4 linked regions of the Homo sapiens genome follow. The protein of the gene in region 3 interacts with the protein of the main gene of each other region in a biochemical or structural test. Each region holds a gene or a part of one and is shown on either strand. Other genes may lie near its edges.

The links.
Region 1: of the proteins of RNF126 (region 3) and FXN, one has a biochemical effect on the other in vitro, tested with the Homo sapiens proteins (one study listed by BioGRID).
Region 2: the proteins of RNF126 (region 3) and RNF168 form a complex in vitro, tested with the Homo sapiens proteins (one study listed by BioGRID).
Region 4: of the proteins of RNF126 (region 3) and AICDA, one has a biochemical effect on the other in vitro, tested with the Homo sapiens proteins (one study listed by BioGRID).

Annotation. Positions count from the first base shown.
Region 1 is NC_000009.12:69,052,156-69,059,864, forward strand, and holds part of FXN (frataxin, mitochondrial isoform 1 preproprotein), read left to right. Parts: intron 1-984; coding exon 985-1,105; intron 1,106-7,709.
Region 2 is NC_000003.12:196,486,474-196,494,182, forward strand, and holds part of RNF168 (E3 ubiquitin-protein ligase RNF168), read right to left. Parts: intron 2,211-7,709; coding exon 2,134-2,210; intron 1,106-2,133; coding exon 926-1,105; intron 1-925. UniProt on the Homo sapiens protein: E3 ubiquitin-protein ligase required for accumulation of repair proteins to sites of DNA damage. Acts with UBE2N/UBC13 to amplify the RNF8-dependent histone ubiquitination.
Region 3 is NC_000019.10:652,992-660,700, reverse strand, and holds part of RNF126 (E3 ubiquitin-protein ligase RNF126), read left to right. Parts: intron 1-7,709. UniProt on the Homo sapiens protein: E3 ubiquitin-protein ligase that mediates ubiquitination oF target proteins. Depending on the associated E2 ligase, mediates 'Lys-27'-, 'Lys-29'-, 'Lys-48'- and/or 'Lys-63'-linked polyubiquitination of substrates.
Region 4 is NC_000012.12:8,609,452-8,616,981, reverse strand, and holds the start of AICDA (single-stranded DNA cytosine deaminase), read left to right. Parts: upstream 1-4,122; 5' UTR 4,123-4,214; coding exon 4,215-4,222; intron 4,223-7,530. UniProt on the Homo sapiens protein: Single-stranded DNA-specific cytidine deaminase. Involved in somatic hypermutation (SHM), gene conversion, and class-switch recombination (CSR) in B-lymphocytes by deaminating C to U during transcription of Ig-variable (V) and Ig-switch (S) region DNA.

The sequences.
Region 1 (7,709 bases), on a different chromosome or scaffold from region 3:
TTTTTTTTCTTTTTTTGAGACGGAGTCTCACTCTGTCACCCAGGCTGGAGTGCAGTGGCACAATGTCAGCTCATTGCAACCTCCACCTCCGGGGTTTCAGTGATTCTCCTGTCTCAGCCTCCCAAGTAGCTGGGAACTACAGGCGTGCACCACAAGCCCAGCTAATTTTTGTATTTTTAGTAGAGACAGGGTTTTGCCATATTGGCCTGGCTAGTTTCAAACTCCTGACCTCAGGTGAGCCACCTACCTCGGCCTCCGAAAGTCCTGGGATTACAGACGTGAGCCACTGCACTGCCTGGCCCAGAAAGGACTATTAATTGTAGTTGCCTCTGGGAATGGGGGCTGCCTGCTTCTTTCTGTAACCCCTTCTGTGCTGTTTAAATTTTTTTTTTTTTTTTTTTTTTTGAGACAGAGTCTCGCTCTGTCGCCCAGGCTGGAGTGCAGTGGCGCAATCTCGGCTCACTGCAAGCTCCGCCTCCCAGGTTCACGCCATTCTCCTGCCTCAGCCTCCTGAGTAGCTGGGACTACAGGCACCCGTCACCACGCCCGGCTAATTTTTTGTATTTTCAGTAGAGACGGGGTTTCACCATGTTAGCCAGGATGGTCTCGATCTCCTGACCGTGTTATCTGCCTGCCTCGGCCTCCCAGAGTGCTGGGATTACAGGCATGAGCTACCACGCCCGGCCTTTAAATTTTTACTTTGGGCCGGGCACGGTGCCTTACGCCTGTAATCCTAACATTTCGAGAAGCTGAGGCACGTGGTGGATCACTTGATGTCACGAGTTCAGACCAGCCACTGCACTCCAGCCTGGGTGACAGAGTGAGACTCTGTCTCAAAAAAAAAAAAAAAAGAAAGAAAAACTTTTACTTTTTACATGTTATTTTCATCAATTTAATGAATTTAAATAACAAATGTATAAATTTGATATTAATAAAATGGAAGCATTTGGTAATCATGTTTTGGGTTTTGTGCTTCCTCTGCAGCTCTCTAGATGAGACCACCTATGAAAGACTAGCAGAGGAAACGCTGGACTCTTTAGCAGAGTTTTTTGAAGACCTTGCAGACAAGCCATACACGTTTGAGGACTATGATGTCTCCTTTGGGGTACCTCTTGACTTCTTTTATTTTTCTGTTTCCCCCTCTAAGAATTTTAGTTCACTAAAATGAAGAATTTCCCTCCAGCAGAGCTAAGCATCAAGTAGCATGTAGTTGTAGGTAGGATTAAAAGACTAGGGTTCCGGGAGGTGAAGGTTGCAGTGAGCCAAAATCACGCCACTGCACTCCAGCCTGGGTGACAGAGCGAGACTCTGTCATAGATGGATGGATGGATGGATGGATGGATGGATGGATGGATAGATAGATAGATAGATAGATAGATAGCTGGATAGATAGATAAGATAGATAAGACAAGACTAGGCTTCAAGCTGCAGTCCAGCTCTACCAGGCTTGTTGTGACTCTGGGCAAGTCACTCAGCCTCTCTGAGCCTCATTTTCCAGCTTCAGTGGATACCCATGAAGGCAAATCAGAGAGGGGCCTGAGTGTGTATTTGTCCAGCAGGCAGATGGAGGGAACAACAAACTAGACCCGTAGTTCTTCAGTAGGGATAAGATAACTGCCCAAAAGTTATTTAGATTACAAAGACTTGAGCCCTGCTCCTGTGAGACAGTGATGGGGTAGGTCGGGTGCATTCCTGGGAAGCATATTTTTGAAAAGCTCACCTGGGATTCTAATGTGTATCCCTAGGTCTTATTCCTAGAGATTTTGATTACTTGGTCTGGGGTGTGGCATGACCTGGGCAGGGCACTGGGATTTTTAAGCTCCACAGATGATTCCAATATGCAGCTAGTATGAGAACTTGTTTTTTTTTGAAGGAGTCTCACTCTGTCACCCAGGCTGGAGTGCAGTGGCGCAATCTCGGCTCACTGCTCCGCTTCCTGGGTTCAAGCAGTTCTCCTGCCTCAGCCTCCCGAGTAGCTGGGATTATAGGCATCTGCCACCATGCCCAGCTAATTTTTGCATTTTAGTAAAGACGGGGTTTCACCATGTTGGTTAGGCTGGTCTCGATCTCCTGACCTCAAATGGTCCACCCCCATCAGCCTTCCAAAGTTTTGGGATAACAGGCGTGAGCCACCAGGTCCGGCCTGGTGTGAGAACTTCTGAGTTGGATGAAACATTAGCCCCAGATCCTAGAAGCCAGGGAAGTGCTGGTCTTTATCGACTGGCCACCAGGTGGCAGATTTGGGCAAGGGTCTGCCTTTGGGTTTAGAATTATTGCTTAGGCCTTAAAGTAGTTCTTTTTTGCCAGTGGGAGAAAATCCCTCAAAGATGGTTTTCTGGGTTGGTTGGTTTGTTTGTCTGTTTGTTTGTTTTTTGAGACAGAGTCTCCCTCTGTTATTCAGCCTGGAGTGCAGTGGCATGATCTCACTGCAACCTCTGCCTCTCGGGTTCAAGCAGTTCTCCTGCCTCAACCTCCCAAGTAGCTGGAATTATAGGCACACGCCCCCACACCCAGCTAATTTTTGTATTTTTAGTAGAGACAGTGTTTCACCACGTTGGCCAGGCTGGTTTTGAACTCCTGAACTCAAGTAATCCTCCCACCTCAGCCTCCCAAAGTGCTAGGATTACAGGTGTGAGCCACCGCGCCTGGCTCCTCAAAGATGTTAATCCTCTTGATGGCAATTGACTAATACCAGAAAATGTCACGAAGCGTGCATTTTGGATTCAATCATGGAATTGTTGAGGACAATCAGCCATCAGACTAAAGCGATAGAAATAGTATTGGAAATTGCAGCGGGAGCACTGAATGGAGAAGGCACTCCACATAATGGAGGAGGCAACCAAGTCTTAGAGAAGGTATCAAGCCTGACTATAAGGACAGTGAGGGAATTGAAAAAACAAAAAAGGAGCAATGGAGCAGGGAAGGATTGAATGCCTTTCAAGTAGATTCAGTAATTGCTGTTAGCAGCAAAAAATGCAGTAGTGCCTGGGCAGGGCTTTAAAGTGCTTGCACAGGCAGCCCTAGAGGGCCGGGCTGCTTGGGAACTCTTACAAACTGACCTACCAACTTGAGCATCCACAGCCTGATCAGAGGTGGGGGAGTTAAGGGCCTTCTCTCCCCTAGCCTCTACTAGAGCCTGTAACTGCAGGGAAACCAAGTTGCAGGCTAAACTCTGCCCACACATGCAGACATTGATTAGCAAGCTACAAAAACAGTCATGAAACCTGTTTTTATAGGATTAGTGAAGCCCCAGTTTGACCAGAGTACTTTGCATGAATGTTTTGTTAGAAGCAAATGTGCCAATATTCTAGCAGCTGCGTTTGGTTTACTTCTTCTTCTTCTTTTTTTTTTTTTTTGAGTTGAAGCCTAGCTCTGTCACCCAGGCTGGAGTGCAGTTGTGTGATCTCAGCTCACTGCAACCTCTGCCTCCCAGGTTCAAGCGATTCTCCCGCCTCAACCTCCTGAGTAGCTGGGATTACAGACATGTACCACAATACAGGGCTAAGTTTTGTATTTTTAGTAGAAATGGGGTTTCACCATGTTGGCCAGGCTGGTCTCAAACTCCTGATCTCAAGTGATCCACCCGCCTCAGCCTCCTAAAGTGCTGGGTTAACAGGCATGAGCCACGGCACCTGGCAAAAGTCATCTTTTGGTTTACTTCTATTGAACTGAAAAAGTCACAAATATATTTATATTTAATTAAATATATTTATATAAAAATATGGTATTTAGTATTATTATTTTTAGAGACAGGGCCTCGCTCTGTCACCCAGGCTGGAGTGCAGTGGCACAATCATAGCTCACTGCAGCCTCAAGCTTCTGGGCTCAAGTGATCGTTCCACCTCAGCCTCCCTAGTAGCTGGGACTACAGGCACATGCCACCATACTCGGCTAATTATTTTATTTTATTTATGGGTCTCGCTATGTTTCCCAGGCTGGTCTCAAACTCCTGGCCTCAAGCGATTCTCTCACCTCGGCCTCCCAAAGCACCGGGATTACAGGTGTGTGCCAGCACACCCAGCCACAAATCTATAAATTTAGAAAGGAGGACTATTTCTAAAGAGGGTCCCACTACCTGTAGGCAGGAAGCAGAGCCTCTGGCCATAACTGAAAAACAAGCACTTCCAAGAAGGGGCAAAGGGAACATGAATTTATGCTGAGAGGCGTAGCTAAGCATACATATTCAACAGATTATGGGAGGATCTATGAATATTCACAAAGGGAGGATCTATGAATATGCACACATGTGGAGTAAGCTAACGTGTGCAGCATGTCTCCCATGTTCACCTTAGGCAGAAACTTAACACTAACATGTATTACAGGGCAACAAAATGAGACTGCATATCTACATAACCTAGCTATTTGGTAGGCTGAAGCAGGAGCATCACTTAAGACTGGGAGTTCGAGGCAGCTGTGAGCCATGATCGCACCACTGTTCTCCAGCCAGGATGACAGGGCAAGACCCTGTCTTAGACCACTCTGTGGTCAGTGGTTATCAGGAAGGAATGCTAGTCAGTTGTGCTGAAACCACTAAAAAGGAAGGGCAGAATTAGGTGATGAGTTGATACCAGTGGTGAAGTGAGTCTTTTTTTTTTTTTTCTTTTTGAGATGGAGTCTTGCTCTGTTGCCCAGGCTGGAGTGTAGTGGTGTGATCTCAGCTCATCGCAACCTCCACCTCCTGGGTTCAAGTGATTCTCTTGCCTCAGCCTCCCGAGTAGCTGGGATTACAGGCGCCTGCCACCACGCCTGGCTAATTTTTTTATATTTTTAGTAGAGACTGGGTTTTGCCATGTTGTCAGGCTAGTCTTGAACTCCTGACCTCAGGTAATCCAACTGCTTTGGCCTCCCAAAGTGCTGGGATTACAGGCAGCTCCAAAGTGCTGGGATTACAGGCATGAGCCACCATGCATGGCCTGAAATAATTTTTTTGAAAGGGCTAGTTTCTATTTAGCCCTTAGGGGAAAAAAAACTAATGGCAGTTAGGGAGGGAATAGAACGAGTCCTGTTTGAACTCCTTTCCCATCATGGCCAAAACTTAAAATTTTTTTTAGATATCTCTGGGCTCCCCTTGGCCAAAAGATAGTTTGTTGAGTCAGTTGGGAGCTTAGAATTTTGTTTTTATTTCTCACATCATTGAATCAATTTGAACCAGGCGACAAAACCTTCTGCTCCCAGTAGTGGGTCAGAGAACCTTCCTGATTCCTGCCCTGAGATTGTCTCTCTGAAGACAACATTAGGCTAGTAGGCTTTCCAGATTCTGTAACCCATTCTTTCAAAGGAAGAGATGCCTATATTTTTCTAGCCAATTCATATACCTTGAGTATCACTCAAGGGCAAAATTATTTCTAACAAATCATTTACTAATTAGCAAATGCTTAAGTGTAGATTTAGAAAGCTAAAGCTATACAGTGGCTGCCATCTATAGTTTGGACTTGTGATTAACTACATTGAAATGCTAACTCTGTACCCTAGAGTATGAATTCCTGATTAGAGTCCTTCAGGTGCTAACTAATTTATGTATTTCATGTTTGATAATATTATTACTTGAGCTTTGTGGGAGAGCAGTCTTTTCCTCCCCTGAGATATAGCTAGAAGTTACCTCCTTTGTGAAGCCTTCCTAGATACTCCAAGCAGACACGGTCCTTCCTTTCTCCCTTGCCCAGCACTCTGAGGTTGACTCTGTGGAGCACTGATCCCTCTGTGTTATAATTGTCTATTTACACGTCAGCTACCACCTATAACACACTGAGTTCCTCAACAGCAGGGACACTGTCCATTCTTTGATCCCAGTGTCTGGAACAGTGCCAAGTACATAGTAGGGACTTAATAAATATTGATTCATATGTAAATGAGACTTTTCCAAAACATGCTTTCGTTGATGCCTCTCAGCATTTATACACCTTTTACCAACTCGCTACTGGCCACATAGACAAATGAAAGCAGTAATCCAGATACACCCAAGAGGACATCTGTTCTTTTTTCTCTCTGTGGAGTGGGAGACTTAAGTGGCTTCTTAACTGGTGTGTCGTCTGATCAAGTGGTCCAGGTAACAGGTGGATGCCAATGTCTGGCCCAGGCATCACCCCTTACTGGCACTGGTCATTACAGAAGACACTCTACCAGAGCTGAAAGGACCTCTTGTCACTAGGCAGCTGTGGAGTCCGCTCTACTTGACCTAGTAAAATCTGCCTGGAGACTGTTAGAGTCACCCCACTACCTGAAGTTACCTCCAGGCTGACCTCTTTTTTTTCCCAGGTGGAGTCCTGGCATCTTAGATATTTTAATAAGGATTTGCTTGTTGACATGTTCTTTATTCACTAAGGTGTCAGCATATTACTGTCTTAGAACTGAGGGTTCTTCATCTTTTTTGGATCAGGACCTCCCTCTAAGAATCTGATGACTGCTCTGGTCCCTCTCCCAATAAAAACTTCCATACTCACCTGTTAAAAAAAAAAAAAACTTTAAACAAATTAACAGAGTTTTATTCAGCAAAGAATGATTCATAAATCGGGAAGGCTGCAACCAGAATAGGTTCAGAGAGACTCCACGGTGTGCCACGTGGTTGGAGAGGATTTAGGATTTATGCACAGAAAAAGGAAAGTGACATGCAGAAAATGAAAGTGAGGGCCTGGTGCTGGTGCGGTGCCTCACGCCTGTAATCCCAGCACTTTGGGAGGCCGAGGCGGGCAGATCATGAGGTCAGGAGATCGAGACCATCCTGGCTAACACGGTGAAACCCTGTCTCTACTAAAAATGCAAAAACTTAGCCGGGCGTGGTGGCAGGCACCTGTAGTCCCAGCTACTTGGGAGGCTGAGGCAGGAGAATGGTGTGAACCTGGGAGGCGGAGCTTGCAGTGAGCCAGGATCCCGCCACTGCACTCCAGCCTGGGCGACAGAGCGAGACTTCATCTTAAAAAAAAAGAAAAGAAAAAGGAAAATGAAAGTGAGGTACAGAAACAGCCAGGTTGGTTACAGCTTGGTGTTTGCCTTAAACTTGGTTTGAACAGTTGGCCGCCTTTGATTAGCCAAAACTCGGTGATTGGTACAAGAGTAGATTGCAGTTCACTATGTACAGAGAAGCCCTTAGATCCGAACTCAAAATAGGTAAGGAGGCAGTTTTAGCTACACTTAAGTTAACATACTCAGGAGTACCATTCCAGCTTCAAGCTGGAAGTGTCTGCAGCCCCCTGAGACCACTTAATCCCAAGTTAAAAACCCCTGCTCAGAGGCAGCATCTTTTTTTTTTTTTTTTTTTTTTTTTTTGAGAGAGATCTCACTCTGTCACCCAGGCTGGAGTGCAGTGGCACGATCTCAGCTCACTGCAACCACCACCTCCTGGGCTCAAGGGATTCTCTTGCCTCAGTCTCCCGAGTAACTGGGATTACAGGCGCGTGCCACTATGTCCAGCTAATTTTTTTTTTTGTATTTTTAGTAGAGATGGGGTTTCACCATGTTGGCCTGGCTGGTCTTGAACTCTTGACCTCAAGTGATCCACTGGCCTCAGCCTCCCAAAGTGCTGGCATTAGAGGTGTGAGTCACTGTTCCTGGCCCAGTGAGGCACCATCTCATTGGATATGGAGACAAAGGATCTGGCTTAGCATCCTGGATTTGTATTTTCTTTCCAAGAGTCCTTAAGTGATATCTAACTTTTGCGAGCTGCAGTTTCCTCAGCTATGAGATGAGTGACATTAACCTCCTCTCTTCAGATT
Region 2 (7,709 bases), on a different chromosome or scaffold from region 3:
CAGGCACGCACCATCACACTCGGCTCATTATTAATTTTTCTGAAGAAACAGGGTCTCACTTTGTTGCCCAGGCTGGTCTCAAACTCCTGGGCTCAAGCGATCCTCTCGCCTCAGCTTCCCAATGTACTGGGATTACAGGCCCGAGCCATCGCACCCTGGCAAGAAAAAAGTTGTAAGAAACTGTTAATAGTGGTTACCTTTGGGGATAGAGACTGATATAAATGGAAAAGGAACGGGAGTGGAGAGGTGGAAGAAGGAAAAAGGAAGCTTTCATTCTTCACTGAATAGCTTTCCTACATATAAAAAAGTTGTTAAACAACTTGCGGTGGCTCACGCCACAAACCCAGCACTTTGAGACGCCGAGGCAGATGGACGGCTTGAGCCCAGGAGCTCGACACCAGTTCAGGAAACATGGCAAAGCCCTGTCTCCACAAAAAAGTAGCCAGGCATGGTAGTGCCAGCCTGTAGTCCCAGCTACTCGGGAGGTTGGAAGGATCACCGGAGCCCGGCCGTCGAGGCTGCAGTGAGTCGTGATTGTGCCACTGCACTCCAACCTGCATGACAGAGTAAGACCTGTCTCAAAAAACAAAAAACCCCAAAAACCTGGATTAGAGCAAATATGTAACAATATGCAAAACAATTTTACTTTAAGTAAAGCAAAAATGTTATCAATAGCTTCTAATTATGGCAACGCCATCTCTTCTGTTCTTTGAAAACCACAGTCAAAGCAATCGGAATGTTAATAGTTAGCTTTCCGTATCAGCAGGTTCCAAACACTCAAATCCAACCAGCCTGGGGTGGAAAAGACAATATTTGTGGGATGCAGAACCTGGAAATACAAGGAGCTGACTCTTCCCATGAGCGGGTTCTGCAGCAGCGCATACCAAGGGATGACCATACCTTAGCGTTCCCTCCTAAAACTTACAATATCAATGCTTAGCTTTCTTGCCAGTTCCTCATCACTTTTCAGTTGTTCTTCCATCGCTCTTCGCCTTTTTTCTGCCTGTCTTTTTTCCTCTTCTTCCTCCTCTGCCAACAACCTCTGTATGTATTCTTCACTGGCTTTGTTTTCTTCTTCCTCGCTGGCCCGTCGCTCTGCCGCCACCTTAAAAGTGATTAATAAAGAGCAATCCTTCTCTGAACGTTTTGGTATACTTGCAATATTTCATAACAAGAATAGAAAAGTAGAAAAAGAACAAATTGGCAGAAATTTAAATGATCTCAAATGAAGTACAAATCTGGAGAAGTAGATTCCTGCAAGATAGCTGTCCCATCTCAGCCTCCCAAAGCACTGAAATTATAGGTGTGAGCCTCCACACCTAGCCTGAGATGTATTACAAGTGAAAATTATACACAAAATTTTGAAGACTAACAAAAAAAGAGAAAAATCTCTATTTATGTATAACTTCATATGTAATTAAAACATAATGCTTCACTATAAACACTGCTTTTTAGGTACTTTTCCTATTTAGGAACTTCACAGCTAGCCCTTTAACCTTTCCTCATCTAAACTCACACTCTACCACCCTTTTACTTTAAGCTCAAAACTTTGGGGAAATAAAAATATATCCTGGTATGGATTAAATTAGGAAAAAGAAGAATTAAAAAATTTTCTTCATATGTAAATGCTTAGGGAACACTATCACATAAGAGCATTAATTATGTAGAAGTAAATTACAGCAAAAAACAAAGCCCTTATAAAGTACATTAAAATTATCCATATTTTGGCCAGGCACAGTGGCTCACACCTATAATCCCAGCACTTTGGGAGGCCGAGGCGGGCGGATCACAAGGTCAGGAGATCGAGACCATCCTGGTGAACACTGTGAAACCCCATCTCTACTAAAAATACAAAAAAATTAGCCAGGCGTAGTGGCGGGCGCCTGTAGTCCCAGCTACTCGGGAGGCTGAGGCAGGAGAATGGCATGAACCCGGGAGGTGGAGGTTGCAGTGAGCCGAGATTGCGCCACTGCACTCCAGCCTGGGTGACAGAGTGAGACTCCATCTCAAAAAAAAAAAATTATCCATATTTCAAGATATACTAGTTATATAAGCACAAAAAACTAAATTAAAATCTGAAACTAAAAACACAGCAGAGAAATATTCCAAAAAAAAAAACTATTTAGCACCTACCTTGCTTATTTCCTCTTCATATTCTCTTCTCAGTTCCCCAGGTTTACTGAGCAGACGAACTGGCTGATAGTCATCAGCTATTTCATATCAAAAAAGAAAATAACATTATAGGCAACACAATTTTATGGTAACTTTGGTCTTCCATTAAAACGAAAAATTAAAATATACAACTATTAATAACTGCAGCAATATCTCCTTTTGGAATTCCATTTTTAACATTTATTTTATTTATTTATTTTAGATTTATTTTATTTATTTTTTTTGAGACAGAGCCTTGCTCTGCTGCCCAGGCTGGAGTGCAGTGGCACAGTCTCGGCTCACTGCAACCTCCACCTCCCAGGTTCAAGCGATTCTCCTGCCTCAGCCTTCTCCTGAGCAGCTGGGATTACAGGCATGCGCCACCACACCCAGCTAATTTTTTATATTTTTGGTAGAGTCAGGGTTTCACCACATTGGCCAGGCTGGTCTCGAGCTCCTGACCTCAAGTGATCCACCCGCCTTGGCCTCCCAAAGTGCTGCGATTACAGGTGTGAGCCACCACGCCCGGCCTGGAATTCCATTTTGTGAGGCCAGAGGTTTAGGGTTTTGGGTTTGAAATGGCATATGAATGCATATACTTAACCCTTCCTCTAAACTCCATTAAAATAACAGTAAAGGAATTTTTAAAAACTGTAATCCTACAACAGCAGAAATTAGCAGAGGAGGTTAACTGATTAAAAAAAAATGTTTTTTTTTTTTGAGACAGAGTCTTGCTCTGTCACCCAGGCTGGAGTGCAGTGGTGCAATCTCAGCTCACTGCAACCTCCGCCTCCCGGGTTCAAACAATTATTGTGCCTCAGTGTCCTGAGTAGCTGGGATCACAGGCATGCCCAACCATGCCCAGCTAATTTTTGTATTTTTAATACAGACCGGTTTTTGCCATGTTGGCCAGGCTGGTTTCGAACTCCTAATGTCGGGCAATCTGCTCACCTCAGCCTCCCAAAGTGCTGGGACTACAGGCGTGAGCCACCGTGCCCGGCTCCAGTTAAAAAATTTTTAACAAATTTCTAGAAAATGGGAAGGCAATGAAATAGAGATAATTGATACAGCAGAAATGAAGGAAAAGAAATCCTTGAAAGGGAAGACTACAGCTGAGGTAGAATTAGAAGGGAATCTGCCTCCTATTTGCCTAGAGAGAGGCTCATAGAGTCCAGAGTGAGTAACCGTGGGACTGAAAACAGAACTCGAGATTTATAAGCTGTTAAATCAGAATCCTCGACTTACCGGCATTTCTCCCTGGATATGGGTGCAGGTGCACACACGCATATTTCTTTAAAGAAACAGATCTAGAGAGAGCCAGAGCAGCTAATGTAATAGGTGGTGACCCAGAGCAAAGTCCTCTGCGATCGGGCAGTTAGGGATGGCAAAGCACAAAGGCCAGGTTTCCATCGGCTTGAACTCAACGTCTGCCCATCACCAATACCCTTCCACATACACAGAGCTTTTCTCCTGGGCCTCATTCTCAAACCTAAAAGCTAATCCAAGGATCGTCAGACATTTGAAATACATCTGCAGGACTAGGGAAACAGTAAGCTATACAAAGAGAAAAAATCATCACCCTGGAGTTGAAAGATAATTCTGGGTCAGAAAATAACCTAAATGTGGGTATGTATCCTCAACAAATCTGATGAGAATTTTATTCTATAAAACAAGACACTGTTTTATAAAGTGTAAAAAGGGAACATCCAAAAAAGAGAACGCATCTGTCTGTTTCAAGGGGCAGCTGCTACTCAACTCCAGCTGACTACGACTACCAGGAAACTCAGGCCTGTCCGTGCCATATTTTTTGCTTTCTCAAGAAAATCCAGAGGCGGCAGGGGTGGATGGTGAGAGATGACTTCATGGGTACAATGTACATTATTTGGGTAGCAGATACCCTAAAGAGCCCTGACTTCGCCACTGTGCAATCTATACATGTAACAAAATTACCCTTGCACCCCATAAATTTATCCAAGTAAAAAGAAAAAAAAAAAGAAAATCCAGCAATCAAGATGTTAATATGAAATCTTCCAACTTAAATAGTGGCATTGGATGGGTCACAAAAAACATGCACACAGGATTCCTATGGCCTGCAGGCCAGCAGTTTGAAAAATCTGCAACAGAGAGACTAAAAAACAGTGATGTAACTCCAAAACAATTAGGGATGCAGTATGCTGAATTCTCATTTATTTTAGTCACTAAGGAGGATCTATTCAAGACAATACAATGGTATACACAGGAGAGACATATATAAGGCTCCTTAAAAAGTAGAAGGATAATCAGCTGGCTTAAACTGAGACCTAGATCAGCAAGTCTTAAAGTAGAATCTACGAAACCCTGGAGGTATCTGAGACTTTTTTTCAGGGAAACTGCAGAGTCAAACTATTTTCATTTAAAAAATTAAAGTAAGCTGGGAGCGGTGGCTCACGCCTGTAATCCCAGCACTTTGGGAGGCTGAGGCAGGCGGATCATGAGGTCAGGAGTTCGAGACCAGCCTGGCCAATATGGTGAAACCCCGTCTATACTAAGAATACAAAAATTAGCCAGGCGTGGTGGCACGCACCTGTAGTCTCAGCTACTCGGGAGGCTGAGGCAGTAGAATAGCTTGAACCCGGGAGGCGGAGGCTGCAGTGAGCCGACATTGCACCACTACACTCCAGCCTGGACGACAGAGGGAGATTCCGTCTCAAAACAAACAAACAAAGAAACAAACAAAAAACCCAAATAAAACAACTGACAGTAGGCCGGGCACAGTGGCTCATGCCTGTAATCACAGCATTTTGGGAGGCCGAGGCAGGTGGATCACTTGAGGTCAAGAGTTTGAGACCAGCCTGACCAACACGGTGAAACCCGTCTCTACCAAAAAATACAAAAAGCCGGGAGTGGTGGCAGGCACCTGTAATTCCAACTACTCGAGAGGCTGACACAGAAGAATTGCTTGAACCCGGGAGGCGGAGCTTGCAGTGAGCCGAGATCACGCCACTGCACTCCAGCCTGGGCGACAGAGGGAGGCTCCGTCTCACAAACAAACAAAAACACATGTTCAACATTACTAGTCATTAGGGAAGTGCAAATCCTGAGTACGGAGATACCGCTTCAGAGGACAGCCAACACTTGGTTTTTTTTTTATAATAGTCATCCATTAAGATATATACACACACATAATGGAGTATGCGGCCAAAAAAGGAAATGGAATGGACACGTGCTAGAACACGATGGACCTTCAAGACACTACGCTGCGTGAAACAGCCAGTCACCAAAGGACAGACACTGTGTGGGGTTCCACTCGTACGAGACACCTAGAGCAATTAAACCCGTAGAGGCAGAAAGAATGGAGGTCGCCAGCAGCCAGGGGAGGGGTGAATGGGGAATTAATTATTGTTTAATGGGCAGTTTCAAGCGTGGAAGATGAGAAAGTTCAGAGATGAATGGTGGTGACGGCTGCACAAAAACATGAATGTACTTCATGTCACGCAACTGTCCATTTAAAAATGGTTAACATGGCGGATTTTATGTTATGTATCTTTTACAATAAAACTGGAAAAAAAGTAAATCACTTTACACATTAGATACAATAAAATAGTAGCTAAGAGGCTGGGCACAGTGGCTCATGCCTGTAATCCCAGCACTTTGGAAGGCTGAGGCAGGAGGACCACTTGAGCTCAGGCTATCAAGACCAGCCTGGGCAACATAGCAAGACCCCATCTTTGTTCAAAAAAATTTTTTTTAAGTAGCTAATTTAGGAAAACAATAATAAGACAGATGTATTATACTAGAAAGCAAAACATATCATTAAGCAGAATTAAACTAAGCATGTGTGGTACTGACACAGCTACTGATAAAGAGATAGTTAAAAAATAAAAAGCCCAGGCAAGGTGCCATGGCTCATGCCTGTAATCCCGGCACTTTGGGAGGTGGAGGCAGGCGGATCACTTGAGGTCAGGAGTTCAAAACCAGCCTGGCCAACAAGGCAAATAACCCTATGTCTACTAAAAATACAAAAATTAGCCACGTGTGGTGGTGCACGCCTGTAATCCCAGCTACTCAAGAGGCTGAGACAGGAGAATCGCTTGAACCCGAGAGGCAGAGGTTGCAGTGAGCCAAGATCGCACCATTGCACTCCAGCCTGGGTGACAGAGAGAGACTCCATCTCAAATAAATAAATAAATAAATAAATAAAATAAATAAATAGCCCCAAATTGCTCTGGAAAATAAGCATATGATTAGTGAAATAGTACGTATATCAATGTGGCTGTATTACTACCAAGTAGTGTGGCTATTAAGTGGCAATCAAGGGCAGGGGGAGTTAAGATGCCTACCTCATACAATACTCGAATTCAAGGTGGATTAAAAAATGGAAAAAAACAAAACTATAAACGACTAAGAAGAACATATGAGATAAATTCCAAAACAATTAAAACTTCCATGTGATGAAAGACATCACAAAGTTAAAAACAAACTAGAAGTTATTTGCAAATACATAAATCACCAGAGAATTAGTGTCCAGAATATAACTAGAACTTCCACAGATCAATTAAAAACCACAACAGGCAAAGGAAAGGCACGTGCGATTTACAGAAGATGCCCAACTACAGCAAGCAGAGAGCTGAACTTTTGTTAAACCGTGGAATGACAGATTTTTAAAGTTTACTTATTTCTACATAAACTGAATCTAAATTAAGATCAGTGAGTTATTCAACTGCAGACACAAGTTAAAATTGTCTTCATTTGCCTTTTTCTTTTGTTTTTGGAAACAAGATCTCACTCTTGCCCAGGCTGGAGTTCAGTGGCGGGATCATAGCTCACTGCAGCCTCCAACCCCTTGGCTGAAGCGATTCTCCTGCCCTAGCCTCCTGAAGCACTGGGATAACAGGTGTGAGCCACTGCATCCAGTCCATTTGCTATTTCTTTTTCTTCTTTGACGGAGTTTCGCTCTTGTTGCCCAGGCTGGAGTACAATGGCGCAATCTCAGGTAACTGCAGCCTCCACCTCCCGGGTTCAAGCAATTCTCCTGCCTCAGCCTCCTGAGTAGCTGGGATTACAGGCATGTCCCACCACGCCCAGCTAATTTTTTGTAATTTTAGTAGAGACGGGGGTTTTACCATGTTGGCCAGGCTGGTCTTGAACTCCTGACCTCAGGTGATCCACCTGCCTTCCAAAGTGCCAGGATTACAGGTGTGAGCCACCGTGCCCAGCCTTCCATTTGCTATTTCTTTCTTTTTTTAAATTTATTTTTTTTTTTTTTTGAGACAGAGTCTCACTTTGTCACTCAGGCTGCAGTGCAGTGGTGCAATCTCAGCTCACTGCAGTGTCCACCTCCCAGGCTCAAGCAATGCTACTGCCTGAGCCTCCCATGTAGCTGAGACTACAGGCGCCCACCACCACACCCGGCTAATTTTTGTATTTTTTGTAGACGGTTTTGCCCTATTGGCCAGGCTGGTCTCACACTCTCAGGCTCAAGCGATTTGCCTGCCTTGAACTCTCAAGTACTGAGATTACAGGTGTGAGCCCCCGCACCTGGCCTGTTTGCTATTTCTTAAACAACTCTAATTTTATAA
Region 3 (7,709 bases):
CCGTGATGGTGCCAGTGCACTCCAGCCTGGGTGACAAGCAAGACGCTGTCTCAAAAACGAATTTTTTATGCTGGGAAATGGGCACACCTGGCGTTTGTTCTGGGGAGGGACGGCTGCTCCGTATCTGGCAATGGGGAAAGTCCCCAGCCACAACCAGTGCCCTCGAAACGGGGCGTCTCTGCCGCTGGGGAGCTTGCCCGGCGGCTGAGTCAGGGGCGGCACTGCTGCTGCTGAGACACCTGGGCTGGCTGTCGGGAAGCTCCTGCCTGCCTCTGACGCAGGGGGGACTGGCTGCCATGGGCTGTGTGCCTGCCCACGAGGGCTTCTCCCAGGCAGCTGGGCCGTTCCGGGCCTCCTTTGCTGTCCTGGGCTCTGGGATCAGGCTGAGGCCCCGCGCAGCTGGGTCATTCTCTGCTGGGCAGCCTTGGCCTCAGTCTCCTCACCTGCCAAGTGGGTTTAGTGATGCGATTCGCTCCCCGTGGCATCTGGTGGGCACGTGTGTGCAGAGTGGCCGGCACCTGGCCGCTCTCCTGGTGACTCGTGAGGGTGTCCTGAGCGGGGAGCCACACTTGCGGTCGGGGGCTCAGGCGACGACGGCACAGGGGCAGCAGTTGCCCCCATGAAAGGCTGTGATGAGGCCGAGCGCGGTGGCTCACGCCTGTGGTCCCATCGCTTTGGGAGGCTGAGGTGGACGGATCACCTGAGGTCAGGAGTTCGAGACCAGCCTGGCTAACATGGTAAAACCCCATCCCTACTAAAAATACAAAAGATTGGCCAGGCGTGGTGGCAGGCACCTGTAGTCCCAGTGACTTAGGAGGCTGAGGCGGGAGAATTGCTTGAACCTGGAAGGCGGAGGTTGCAGTGAGCCGAGATTGTGCCACTGCAGTCCAGCCTGGGTGACAGAGCAAGACTCCTTCCAAAAAAAAAAAAAAAAGGCGATGACGAGGGTGTCTGGGTGTCTGAGCAGCAAAGGGAGCGTCAGCCAGAGTGGGGCGTGTGGCGGCAGGAACCAGACAGGCCAGCTGGAGCTCAGGCCACAGGCGGCTGCGCAGACCCAGACTCGAGCCTGCTGAGGAGGCACTGACTGGAGCTGTGACTGTAGGGTGTGGGCGAGAGCTGCTGAGGGCACTGAGCCCCCAGGAACCAGGCGGGCGCAGGGAGGTGGCCCTGCGTGCCGTCCTTGCCCCTGACCTCCCCGTCTCTGGGTGGTTCCTAGGGTGGTTCCAGCTCTGCCTGCCGACCCCCCACCCCCGAACGCCTGCAACCTCCGCAGTGTCCCCAAGTGGCGGTGAGAGGACGGTGGGGGTGCTGGGCCCTGCCGCCCACGGTGGCGGGGAAGAGCCGGCGTGGGCGGGGAGCCACCAGGAAGTGAGGGCTGCTACGGCCAGTGTCACTGATGGGGCCAGGCGGGAAGTCTCCCCAGCTGCCCCCCGGCCCACCCTGTCTTCTCCTGGTCCCTGCGGCGGCCTGGCCCGAGTCTTCAGAAGACGGCCTGGGTCTGTCTCTGGCCGCTGCTTGCTCTGTGTGTCTGCGGTTGTGCCAGATACCGTGACAGTGACAGCCTGCCCCTGCCTCTCAAGCGTCCGGCCAGCACCCTGGAGCGGCTCTGCACAGCTGGGTTCTCCGGAACGGGCTCCCTGCAGCACCCTGTGAACATGGAGCCTGGCGTTGTGATCGGGCACCAGCAATACCCCGGGAACCTGTGGATGTCGGCTGCCCTCTCTGGCCGGCTGGCGCTGGGGTCTGCCTCGGGCAGATGCCGGTGCTGAATTTCCTCCCACTTAGAACTCTGCCACCATGAGGACCTTCCTCTGAGCCTCGGGCGAGCCGTAGCACCCCTGGCACTGGCACGGATGGGCACCTGTGGGGTTCCAGTCCCTAGTGGTGGTGCCTGAAGCCACCTGGGAAGAAGAAGGCAGAGTTCGGGGCCTGGGCCGAGGCACGCCCTGGGGTGTGAGGCGGGGCCCCAGCCTGGGCTGAGGCAGTGGCTTCGCTCACGCCTCGTCCATCCAGCTTGTCTTGGGAGTGTGTGGTGCGTGGGGCCCAGGGACAGACGGTGTGAATGTGGGATGTGGTGGCAGCTGCTGAGGGCGGGAAGAAAGGGGTGCAGGCGCCGCACGTGCCCGTGCCTCTGGGGCTGCGGGGCCCACACACTGTGGATCAGCCGGGAAGCTTTGGGCACCCTTTAGGAAAACAGTAGCCAGCACGGGGGCTCCTACCGAGGCCGAGCACTGCACCATGACTCTCCCTGGGGTCTCCTGATGTGCACAGCTTCCCGAGGGCCCTGCCACCCACAGGGGCCGAGTCACTGTCACCAGGGGCCTGCCTGCCCTGGTCACTGTCAGTCATCTGGGGCCTGTAGGTCGCCAGCCCACTCCCCTCCATGCGCCTGGCCCTGGGCCCTCAGGACATGCGCCCCGTGCAGGCCCCGTGGATGAAGGGGCCTCTGCTGCCCTGCCAGGTCCCACCCGGGGATGAGGCCATCACGCTGCAGGGGTGCATGGGTGGAGCCCGGCACTGGCAGGGTCCCCCCTACCCTGGCTGCCTGGCCAGCTGTTGCTATGGTGATGATGCCGGGTGATCGTACCTCCTGCATCTGTTCTCTGACGGAGAGGTGAATGGATTCACCGTCTTCTGCTAGGGCCAGAGGCTCCAATGGGGCCTCTGTGGGGGCCCCCAGTGCGTGCTGCCCCCGGAGAAGGTGGGGCAGCTCCTTCACCAGGCCCCCTTGCCCAGGCGTTTCTACCTGCAGCTGCCCCGATTTAATACGAGACCAAGCGGTCTCTTGGCTGTGCCCTTGGAGGAGGAGGGCGGCTGGAGACCCCCAGGTCCAGCCCCTCCCACCGTCGGCCAGCAGAGGCTCAACCTCCACCCTGGATATCCGGGATCCACCTGTCACTTGCCTTCGTGACCAGAGCCTCGGTTCCGGCCTTCGGTGGCCCTGGAGGGGCTGGCCGGGGGCCTGAGAGACAGCCCAGAGCCCTGACAATACGCAGGAGTTGGGTCGCAGCCCTTGGCGTCCTCGATGGCACCCGGATTTCAGATATGAGTGAGTGTCCAGGCTGTCCTCTGTGACAGGGCAGAGGCTTGGAGCAGAGAGGTGACCTTTGAAACCCCTAGGGTGGGCGTTCCAGCAGCAGGGCCGACGTGCACAGGCCCCGACGCTGGAGTGGGTGCTGCAGAGAGAGGGTTCTGGACAGTGCTGTGGCACCAGGCCCCACGGCCGCTGCGGGCAGGACAGCGGGGGCCAAGAGGAGGCCAGGGCTGGGGCAGATGAGTGTGTATGTGGCCAGGTCGGGCTGTCGTGAGCCGGCAGTGCGGGTGGCGGGAGCATGCGTTGTGCCCTGGACTGAGACGGGAACCCGGGAGCCCGACAGAAAGCCAGTGATGCACAGAGGGGCTGAGCTCGGCACATGGGGACCAGAGCGGCCGAGCGCTGTGCCAGGCCACGTGGGCGTGTGCAGGGCCTCGTGCTTGTCCAGGAGAGATTCGGGGCTGGGGCTGGCAAGCCAGGGTCCTCAGAGGGAGACAGCTTCTCCCTCAGGCCCTTCTGGGGCTGCCTGACCTTGTGGATGCACCCAGCAGGAGAGATGGTGGTCGGGGCAGCTGCACAGCTGACTTACGTCCTGCCCTCAGTGGGGGCCAGTGCAGCTGTTCCAGGTCCACTGGGTGGTGCTAGCCTGGGGAGTCACCATGCAGGGAGAGCCTGAGCCCTGAGCTACCCCTCCATTCCCAGAGACCCACCCAGGCGATGGAGCGGCCCTGGGCTCCCGGTCAGCTGGCGGGCGGACGGCGGCAACCCCTGAGCCCAGAGGAGCCCCGATAGACCCGACACCGGCAGAAACCAGGGGTTCAGATTTGACTGTGAAGTCTCAGCGTGTTTACGTGGGGCGTCCCAATCCCGACACCCCAAACACACCCCAAGAACCGACGCCTGGGGAGAGTTGTCACGGCCACTGTGGCAGAGCCACACTGCTCCCACACTAAGCTCAGGGCCACAGTGGTGGTCGTTGGCTGCTTCCCCTTCCCCTTTCCCTTTTTCTTTTTCTTTTTCTGACACGGTCTCACTCTGTGGCCCAGGCTGGAGTGCAGTGGTATGATCTCGGCTCACTGCAACCTCTGCCTGCCGGGTTTAAGCGATTCTCGTGCCTCAGCTCCTGAGTAGCTGGGATTACAGGCACCCACCACCGTGCCCAGCTAATTTTTGTATTTTTAGTAGAGACGGTATTTCCCTATGTTGGCTGGTCTCGAACTCCTAACCTCAAGTGATCTGCCCACTTTGGCCTCCCAAAGTGCTAGGATTACAGGTGTGAGCCACTGTGCCCAGCCCTTTTTTTCTTTGTTTCTTTCTTTTTTTTGTTTTTGTTTTTGAGATGCTGCCTCACTCTGTTGCTGCAATCTTGGCTCACTGCAGCCTCCACCTCCCAGGTTCAAGCGATCCTGGCACCTCAGCCTCCCTAGCAGCTGGGACCACAGGCGCCTGGCCCATTTATTTTAATAGCTTTATCTCAGTATTTTCACACACCATATAATTCACCTGGTGAAACGTTTGTAGTATATTCATAAAGTTGTGCAACCACCACCACAGTCTAATTCCACAGCATTCTCACAGCTGCAAAAAGAACCCACCTCAGCCCTGCCAGCCGTCACTCCCCGTCCCCTCCCCCAGGCCCTGGTGCTCACACATCCCCTCTCTGTCTCTGTGGCTCGGCCTGTCCTGGACATTTCATAGACGTGGGATCACACGCTGCGTGGTCTTCTGTGTCTGGCATCTCTCACTGGACGTGATGTCCTCAAGATGCAATCCCCCCTCCCCCCCGCCGTGGCCTGGTCTGGGCCTTGCCCCTTTCCATGGTTGAGTCGTGCTCTGAGGTGCGGGTGGACACTGGAGCTGTTTGCATCTGCCGACGACGATGATGAACTGTGCTGCCGTGAACTCTCACCTGCCAGTTCTGGCCATGTGAACATTTGGTGGGCAGGTGTCTTCGTTTCTCTGGGGTCTGCGCCTGGAGTGAAAGTTCTAGCTCGTGGGTCATGGGGTAGTTCCATCTGGGGGACTTCTGGGCTCCCAGCAGGCCTGACGGGGTCTTGCATCTCGTCCTGGCTGGCCCTGGGAAGTGGCATCTCGCTGGGGCTGGCCGGCTGCGTTTACCCAGCGTGTTTTTGGAGGCATGTCCTGTACACGTCCTTTCCCCCCCCACTTTTCTTTTTTTTTGAGATGGAGTGTCACTCTGTCGCCCGGGCTAGAGTGCAGTGGCGCGATCTCGGCTCACTGCAAGCTCTGCCTCCCAGGTTCAAGCCGTTCTCCTGCCTCAGCCTCCCGACTTTGCCCGTTTTTAGTTGCGTTGTCTGTTTCTCTTTTTCTTTTTTTTTTTGGCAGGGTCTGGTTCTGTCACCCAGGCTAGCGCAGTGGTGGGACCACAGCTCACTGCGGTCTCGATCTCCTGGACTCAAGCCATTCTGCCTCCTGCCTCCCGCTCCTGCCTGTCTCCTCCCCCTCCTTAGTAGCTGGAGCTACAGACCCACCCCAGCATACCCAGCTAATTTGTTTTTTGTAGAAATGGGGTTTGGCCATGTTGGCTAGGCTGGTCTCAAGCTCCTGACCTCAAATGGTCTGCCCACCTTGGCTTCCCAAAGTACTGGGATCACAGGTGTGAGCTGCTGCACCTGGCCTGGGCTTTTTTTTCTTTCTTTCTTTCTTTCTTTTGAGTTGTAAGCACTTTTTTTTTTCCCGATACGGAGTCTCACTCTGTCGCCCAGGCTGGAGTTACAATGTCATGATCTCGGCTCGTTGCAGCCTCCGCCTCCTAGGTTCAAGCGATTCTCCTGTCTCAGCCTCCTGAGTAGCTGGGATTACAGGTACGTGCCACCACGCCTGGCTAACATTTGTATTTTTAGTAGAGACGGGGTTTCTCCATGTTGTCCAGGCTGGTCTCGAACTCCTGGCCTCAGGTGATTCGCCTGCCTCGGCCTCCCAAAGTGCCAGGATTACAGGTATGAGACACCGCGCCCGGCCAGCACTTTTTTTTTTTTTTTTTTTTTTTTTTTTTTTTTTTTTGAGACGGAGTCTTGCTCCCTCGCCCAGGCTGCAGTGCAATGGCACAATCTCAGCTCACTGCAACCTCCGCCTCCCGGGCTCAAGCAATTCTCCTGCCTCAGCCTCCCAAGTAGCTGGGATTACAGGCGCCCGCCACCACACCCGGCTAATTTTTGTATTTTTAGTAGAGACAGAGTTTCACCATGTTGGCCAGGCTGGTCTCCAACTCCTGATCTCAGATGATCCGCCCGCCTCGGCCTCCCGAAGTGCCAGGATTACAGGCCTGAGCCACCGCGCCCCCGGTGATGGCGGAGCGTGCCGAGAATTCGTGGGGCGTGGGCTGAAACGCATGTGGTGCCTCCCGGCCTCACCAGGAGCCGGGCCGCACTTTTTCTATATTGTAGATGGTGCCTCTTCACTCTCCCCTCACGGTGGGTTCATGTGCATCTGGCATCGTTTGCTCACCCTGGCCTTAGTCCCTCCCCACCCAGCCTGTGCTTCAGTGGCAGGAGCAGGTGAGGCAGGCACGGCGTGGTGTGGGCGGGGGCCCAGCTGTCGGCCCTCCCCTTGGGCACTGCACGCCAGACCCCCGCTTCTCCCCAGAGTCAGTGGGTGAGGCCGGGATCTTGCTTGCTGGAGAGGTCCCAGCCCCTGCCCCTGCGAAGACTGAACAGCCCCGGTGCAACCTGCATCCCCAGAGCCTGGGGTCGACCTTGGCTCCCCTCACAGCACTCCCCCATGCACGGTGGGAGCCTTGTCTCCTGTTTTTGTCTGTGTTACCTGGGGGTGGTCTTGGGACCCCCATGTGAGCCCCTGGCGTGATGACACGTGCCGTGTGAGGCCATTTTCACGTTGCTGCGATGGAGCACTTGAGACTGGGTCGTTCATAGAGAGCAGTTGATTTAGCTTCCAGTTTCCAGTTCTGCAGGCTGTGCGGGAAGTGTGTGTCGGCATCTGCCCAGCCCCTGGTGAGGCCGGGAGGCACCATGCACGTTTCAGCCCAGGCCCCACGAATGCTCGGCACGCTCCGCCATCACCAGGGGCCCAGCCATCCATGAGGAGTCCGCCCTGTGAGCCAGTGTCTCCAGCAGGCCCTTCAGCCCTGGGGATCCCGTTGCAGTGTGAGATCCACAGGGGATGGCATCCGTCCTGCTCGGCACAGCTGTGGCTTGAGGCTGGTGCTGGGGAACTGTGAACGTGGTTTTGGGACTCACCCACGGCTGTCCCTGGGCAGGGTCCTCACGTCTCCTCTGGGACATCACCATGTTGGCCTTGTGTTGTCCTTGGCTCTAGGGGGACCTGGGGATGGGGTCTTGCAGGGGTGTGGCCAGCGTGGACGTGGCCTCCCCCGAGCCAGGGGAACGGGCTGTGTGCGGGGCTGCCAGAGCGTCCTGGAAATGCCACTGTGGGGTATTGGGGCACCCCTCCGAGTGGTGCCACCTGTGTGAGGAGGTGCCCAGGCACTGGTGACGCCCGTCACGGTGGGGCAGGTCGGAGGGGCTCAGCCAAGGCGCTGATGACGCTGGTGACGCCCGTCACGGTGGGGCCAGGTCGGAGGGGCTCAGATCGCCGGGAGCCACCAAAGGGTCAGCGGGTGGCTGGCAGAGGCCAGGTCCCCTCGGCCGCCCTCCAGGACCCACGGGTTGGGAGCCACCCTGGCCTGCGTGTGCCT
Region 4 (7,530 bases), on a different chromosome or scaffold from region 3:
TTCTGGGTAAATACCCAAAGAAAACAAAATCAGTGCCTTGAAGAGATAACTCCATGTCCACTGCTGCGCTATTCACAATAGCCAAGATATGGAGACAACCTACGTGTCTGTCGACAGATGAATGGATCAAGAAAATGTGGCACGTATATATATATCAGAATAAGAATATCATTCTGCCTTAAGAAAGGAGATCTTGCCATTTGCAACAACATTGATAAATCTGGAGGACATTATGCTTGGTGAAATAAGCCAGACACAGAAAGAAAAATACTGCATAATCTCACTTATATGTGGAATCTTAAAAAGTTGAACACATAGAAGCAGAAAGTAAAATGGTGAGCCAGCCACAGTGGCTCACGCCTGTAATCTCAGCACTTTGGGAGGCCGAGGTGGGTGGATCACTTGAGGCCAGGAGTTCGAGACCAGCCTGGCCAACATGGTGAAACCCCCGTCTCTACTAAAAATACAAAAATCAGCTGGGCGTGGTGGTGCATGCTTGGAATTCCAGCTAATTGGGAGGCTGAGGCAGGAGAATCCTTTGAACCCAGGAGGCGGAGGTTGCAGTGAGCCGAGATCACACCATTGCACTCCAGCCTGGGCAACAGAGTGAGACTCCGTCTCAAAAAAAAAAAAAAAATAAAATAAGAAAGAAAGAAAGTAAAATGGTGGTTAGCAGGCATGGGGAGGTAGGGAAAATGGGAAGATGTTGCTCAAATGGTACAAAGTTGCAGTTATACAGGATTAATAAGTCTAGAGCTCTATTGTACAGCATGATGACTACAGTTAAAAAAGATTGTATTGGGCCAGGCACAGTGGCTCACACCTGTAATCACAGCACTTTGGCTGAGATGGGAGCATTGTTTGAGCCCAGGAGTTCAAGACCTAACTGAGCAACATAGTGAGATCCTGCCTGTACAAAAAAACAAACAAAAAAATTAGCCCAGTGTGGTAGTGTGCAGCTGTGGTCCCAGCTACTCGGGAGGCTGAGGTGGGAGGATTGTTTGAGCCCGGGAGGTCAACGCTGCAGTGAGCCAAGATCATGCCACTGCACACCAGCCTAGGCAACAGAGTGAGACTCTTGTCTCGAAAAAAAAAAAAAATTGTATACTGGAAATTTTCTAAGACAGTAGATTTCAGATGCGGTCACCACACACACATATCCATACAAGGTTACTATGTGAGGAGATGGATAAGTTAATTAGCTTGACTGTAGTAATCATTTCATTACAGATAACAAAACACCATGTTATGCACCTTAAATATGTGCCGTTTTTATTTAAAACAATAAAACAACCCAATTGTGTGTACCTGTGTGTTATTCTCTTGACAAATGGGTGAAAATATGATAAAAGCCCAACTCGCATCTGAGGATACAACTTAAAGGGATTAGATTTCAAATGCCTGCACCTTCCAGTTGACGCTGCAGATGAATTAGGAGTCTCCATTCTGCTCCTTGACCAACTGTCCTATAAAACTGAGAGTGCCAAAGGCAACTACCGTCTACTATCTTGCTGGTGCCCTGAGGAATTTTTTCAGCAATAATAATTTAGACAAGGCCAGGTGCAGTGGCTCACGCCTGTAATCCCAGCACTTTGGAAGGCTGATATGGGCAGATCACTTGACCCCAGGAGTTCGACACCAGCCTGGTCAACATGGAAAGGCCTCGTCTCTAAAGAAAAATACAAAAATGAGCTGGGTGTGGTGGCACATTCCTGTAGTCTCAGCTCCTCGGGAGGCTGAGGCAGGAGTGTCACTTGAGCCCAGGAGGTCAAGGCCTGCAGTGAGCCATGTTCATGTCACTGTAGTGCAGCCTGGGTGACAGAGAGAGACCCTCCTCAAAATAATAATTATTATTATTACATAATTATTAGAAATAATTATAATTATTATTTTGAATCTCATGGCTAATTAAAAAATAATTTAAACAGATTATTTTACTTGTCTTTAGTTTACTTAGGAGTGTATTTTAAGTGATAAGTGCTAAAGAGAAAAATAATTTAGGGGATGGAGGCAAGGGAGTGTCAGAATGGTGAGATTTTGTTGACATTTTAGATATGGTGACTAGGACAAATCTCAAATACCGGACAGTATTTGAATAAGGACATAAAATATATGATGGTGTAAGCCACAACCATACACAAAAAATAACATTTCAGCAGAGGGACCTCAAGGGCAGAGGAAGGAGTGTGCGCTCTTTGCGTGAGCAAGGGAGAGAGTGGAAGGAGATGCAGCCAGAGGGGTGAAGCAGAGCAGACGGTAGAGGGGCTTGTGGGCCATCTCAGGCTGCTGGCCTATACTGAGAGAATGGGAAGCCATGGAGGGTTATGACAGGGGAGTGACATGACCTTAAATATTCCAGAAGGAATACTCTAGTTGCCATGTGGAGAACAGACTGTAATCGAAGAAGGGGGAGGCAGGAAGGCCAGTTGGGAAGCAAAATGCAATAATCCAGGTTGCTTGGACCTGGAGGTAGTGAGAAGTGGTCAGTTTGTGGCTATATTCTGGAAGCAGAGATAACAGGATTTGCTAATGGAGTGTGCATGGAATTTAAAAGAAAGAGAGGAGCTGAGAGACACTCTGCCCAGGTTTTGCCAAGCAATTGGAAGAATACTGCTGTTTATTGAGATGGGAAAGACGGCAAGAAGAGTAGGTAAGGCAGAGAACAGGGGTTCTGTTTTAGACAGGCTGGAGGTGCTCAGACATCCAAATGGAGATTCTGAGAGGGAAGCTGGATACACTTGTCTTGAGTTTCAAGAAGTGGTCTGATAGATTTGCCTGTGTCCCCACCCAAATCTCATCTTGAATTGTAGTTCCCACAATTCCCACATGTCATGGGAGGGACCCAGTGGGAGGTAGTTGAACAATGGGGGTGGGTCTTTCCCATGCTGTTCTCATGATAGTGAATAAGTCTCACAAGATCTGATGGTTTTATAAAGGGATTTCCCCCTGCGTGAGCTCTCTCTTGCCTACCACCATGTAAGATGTCCCTTGCTCTTCTGCCATGATTGTGAGGCCTCCCCAGCCATGTGGAACTGTGAGTCAACTAAACCTCTTTCCTTTATAAATTACCCAGTCTCAGGCATGTCTTTATTAGCAGTGTGAGAACAGACGAATACATGGTCCAAGCTAGGGCTATTGATTTGAAAATCATCAAGGTATAGATGGTATCAAAGGCTTGAGGCAGGAAGAGAGCAGAGACCCTAGCTGCATTGCTTAGCATTGCATCCCTAGCACCTGGCATAGTTTCCATTAACAGTAGGCATGAAGTATCTACTCAGTGAATAAATAGAATGCATATGGGCTACAGTAGGAGAGAGAAATAAAATCTTTAATAGACCAAGTTCTATGAGAGCACAAAATTAAAGTCTTTTATTTGAAGATCTTAGCCTGTTTTCCAAATTCAGTGCAGCCAGTTAGACACTGAATCTGTCTGGTGAAACAAGCATTTTTGTATTTTGGGGGACTGCTGCTGCTTCTGACTCCAAATTAAGGATTTTTTTTTTTTCTAAAAAAGATGGCTCATGCAAAAATCACTCTTTGGTGTAAATATCTAGTCTTCAAGCAATTCTTGTAATGCAATCAGAAAGAAAAAAATCCATGGTTTGGGAGGCAAAATTTTTGTGTTCTAAATTCTATATAACTGAGTTCATTTGCTTAACTGCAAAGCAGGAGCTGCTAGTGCCTGTCTGTACTGAGGTTCAGAGAGACTGTGGGAATATGGGGGAATTAGAGGCTATCTGAGGCTCTTCAACACAATAACCCAAGAAGCTATTTAAATGCTCTTTAAGGTATTTACATAAATATTACTATTCTCATTGTGCTTTTATTTTGTGTTATCATGATTATAATTGAAGTGTCTACTGTTACTGCCTCCTGATCTTTGCTAGCTATGGAGCATGGACTGGGCTTTTAGAGCAGCAGCCCCAAAGGAACCTAAACATTAAAGCAGAGCTGCCCTCAATGGTTTAACCTGTGTGACTCTGCCTATGACAGCCCCACCCACCCATCTTCACTGGATCCAAATCAGGAGCAAGGCCGTTGGGGTACCTGGTGGGGGTGATGCTGTCAGGGGAGGAGCCCAAAAGGGCAAGCTCAAATTTGAATGTGAAGGGCCAATGCACTGTCAGACTAAGACAGAGAACCATCATTAATTGAAGTGAGATTTTTCTGGCCTGAGACTTGCAGGGAGGCAAGAAGACACTCTGGACACCACTATGGACAGGTAAAGAGGCAGTCTTCTCGTGGGTGATTGCACTGGCCTTCCTCTCAGAGCAAATCTGAGTAATGAGACTGGTAGCTATCCCTTTCTCTCATGTAACTGTCTGACTGATAAGATCAGCTTGATCAATATGCATATATATTTTTTGATCTGTCTCCTTTTCTTCTATTCAGATCTTATACGCTGTCAGCCCAATTCTTTCTGTTTCAGACTTCTCTTGATTTCCCTCTTTTTCATGTGGCAAAAGAAGTAGTGCGTACAATGTACTGATTCGTCCTGAGATTTGTACCATGGTTGAAACTAATTTATGGTAATAATATTAACATAGCAAATCTTTAGAGACTCAAATCATGAAAAGGTAATAGCAGTACTGTACTAAAAACGGTAGTGCTAATTTTCGTAATAATTTTGTAAATATTCAACAGTAAAACAACTTGAAGACACACTTTCCTAGGGAGGCGTTACTGAAATAATTTAGCTATAGTAAGAAAATTTGTAATTTTAGAAATGCCAAGCATTCTAAATTAATTGCTTGAAAGTCACTATGATTGTGTCCATTATAAGGAGACAAATTCATTCAAGCAAGTTATTTAATGTTAAAGGCCCAATTGTTAGGCAGTTAATGGCACTTTTACTATTAACTAATCTTTCCATTTGTTCAGACGTAGCTTAACTTACCTCTTAGGTGTGAATTTGGTTAAGGTCCTCATAATGTCTTTATGTGCAGTTTTTGATAGGTTATTGTCATAGAACTTATTCTATTCCTACATTTATGATTACTATGGATGTATGAGAATAACACCTAATCCTTATACTTTACCTCAATTTAACTCCTTTATAAAGAACTTACATTACAGAATAAAGATTTTTTAAAAATATATTTTTTTGTAGAGACAGGGTCTTAGCCCAGCCGAGGCTGGTCTCTAAGTCCTGGCCCAAGCGATCCTCCTGCCTGGGCCTCCTAAAGTGCTGGAATTATAGACATGAGCCATCACATCCAATATACAGAATAAAGATTTTTAATGGAGGATTTAATGTTCTTCAGAAAATTTTCTTGAGGTCAGACAATGTCAAATGTCTCCTCAGTTTACACTGAGATTTTGAAAACAAGTCTGAGCTATAGGTCCTTGTGAAGGGTCCATTGGAAATACTTGTTCAAAGTAAAATGGAAAGCAAAGGTAAAATCAGCAGTTGAAATTCAGAGAAAGACAGAAAAGGAGAAAAGATGAAATTCAACAGGACAGAAGGGAAATATATTATCATTAAGGAGGACAGTATCTGTAGAGCTCATTAGTGATGGCAAAATGACTTGGTCAGGATTATTTTTAACCCGCTTGTTTCTGGTTTGCACGGCTGGGGATGCAGCTAGGGTTCTGCCTCAGGGAGCACAGCTGTCCAGAGCAGCTGTCAGCCTGCAAGCCTGAAACACTCCCTCGGTAAAGTCCTTCCTACTCAGGACAGAAATGACGAGAACAGGGAGCTGGAAACAGGCCCCTAACCAGAGAAGGGAAGTAATGGATCAACAAAGTTAACTAGCAGGTCAGGATCACGCAATTCATTTCACTCTGACTGGTAACATGTGACAGAAACAGTGTAGGCTTATTGTATTTTCATGTAGAGTAGGACCCAAAAATCCACCCAAAGTCCTTTATCTATGCCACATCCTTCTTATCTATACTTCCAGGACACTTTTTCTTCCTTATGATAAGGCTCTCTCTCTCTCCACACACACACACACACACACACACACACACACACACACACACACAAACACACACCCCGCCAACCAAGGTGCATGTAAAAAGATGTAGATTCCTCTGCCTTTCTCATCTACACAGCCCAGGAGGGTAAGTTAATATAAGAGGGATTTATTGGTAAGAGATGATGCTTAATCTGTTTAACACTGGGCCTCAAAGAGAGAATTTCTTTTCTTCTGTACTTATTAAGCACCTATTATGTGTTGAGCTTATATATACAAAGGGTTATTATATGCTAATATAGTAATAGTAATGGTGGTTGGTACTATGGTAATTACCATAAAAATTATTATCCTTTTAAAATAAAGCTAATTATTATTGGATCTTTTTTAGTATTCATTTTATGTTTTTTATGTTTTTGATTTTTTAAAAGACAATCTCACCCTGTTACCCAGGCTGGAGTGCAGTGGTGCAATCATAGCTTTCTGCAGTCTTGAACTCCTGGGCTCAAGCAATCCTCCTGCCTTGGCCTCCCAAAGTGTTGGGATACAGTCATGAGCCACTGCATCTGGCCTAGGATCCATTTAGATTAAAATATGCATTTTAAATTTTAAAATAATATGGCTAATTTTTACCTTATGTAATGTGTATACTGGCAATAAATCTAGTTTGCTGCCTAAAGTTTAAAGTGCTTTCCAGTAAGCTTCATGTACGTGAGGGGAGACATTTAAAGTGAAACAGACAGCCAGGTGTGGTGGCTCACGCCTGTAATCCCAGCACTCTGGGAGGCTGAGGTGGGTGGATCGCTTGAGCCCTGGAGTTCAAGACCAGCCTGAGCAACATGGCAAAACGCTGTTTCTATAACAAAAATTAGCCGGGCATGGTGGCATGTGCCTGTGGTCCCAGCTACTAGGGGGCTGAGGCAGGAGAATCGTTGGAGCCCAGGAGGTCAAGGCTGCACTGAGCAGTGCTTGCGCCACTGCACTCCAGCCTGGGTGACAGGACCAGACCTTGCCTCAAAAAAATAAGAAGAAAAATTAAAAATAAATGGAAACAACTACAAAGAGCTGTTGTCCTAGATGAGCTACTTAGTTAGGCTGATATTTTGGTATTTAACTTTTAAAGTCAGGGTCTGTCACCTGCACTACATTATTAAAATATCAATTCTCAATGTATATCCACACAAAGACTGGTACGTGAATGTTCATAGTACCTTTATTCACAAAACCCCAAAGTAGAGACTATCCAAATATCCATCAACAAGTGAACAAATAAACAAAATGTGCTATATCCATGCAATGGAATACCACCCTGCAGTACAAAGAAGCTACTTGGGGATGAATCCCAAAGTCATGACGCTAAATGAAAGAGTCAGACATGAAGGAGGAGATAATGTATGCCATACGAAATTCTAGAAAATGAAAGTAACTTATAGTTACAGAAAGCAAATCAGGGCAGGCATAGAGGCTCACACCTGTAATCCCAGCACTTTGAGAGGCCACGTGGGAAGATTGCTAGAACTCAGGAGTTCAAGACCAGCCTGGGCAACACAGTGAAACTCCATTCTCCACAAAAATGGGAAAAAAAGAAAGCAAATCAGTGGTTGTCCTGTGG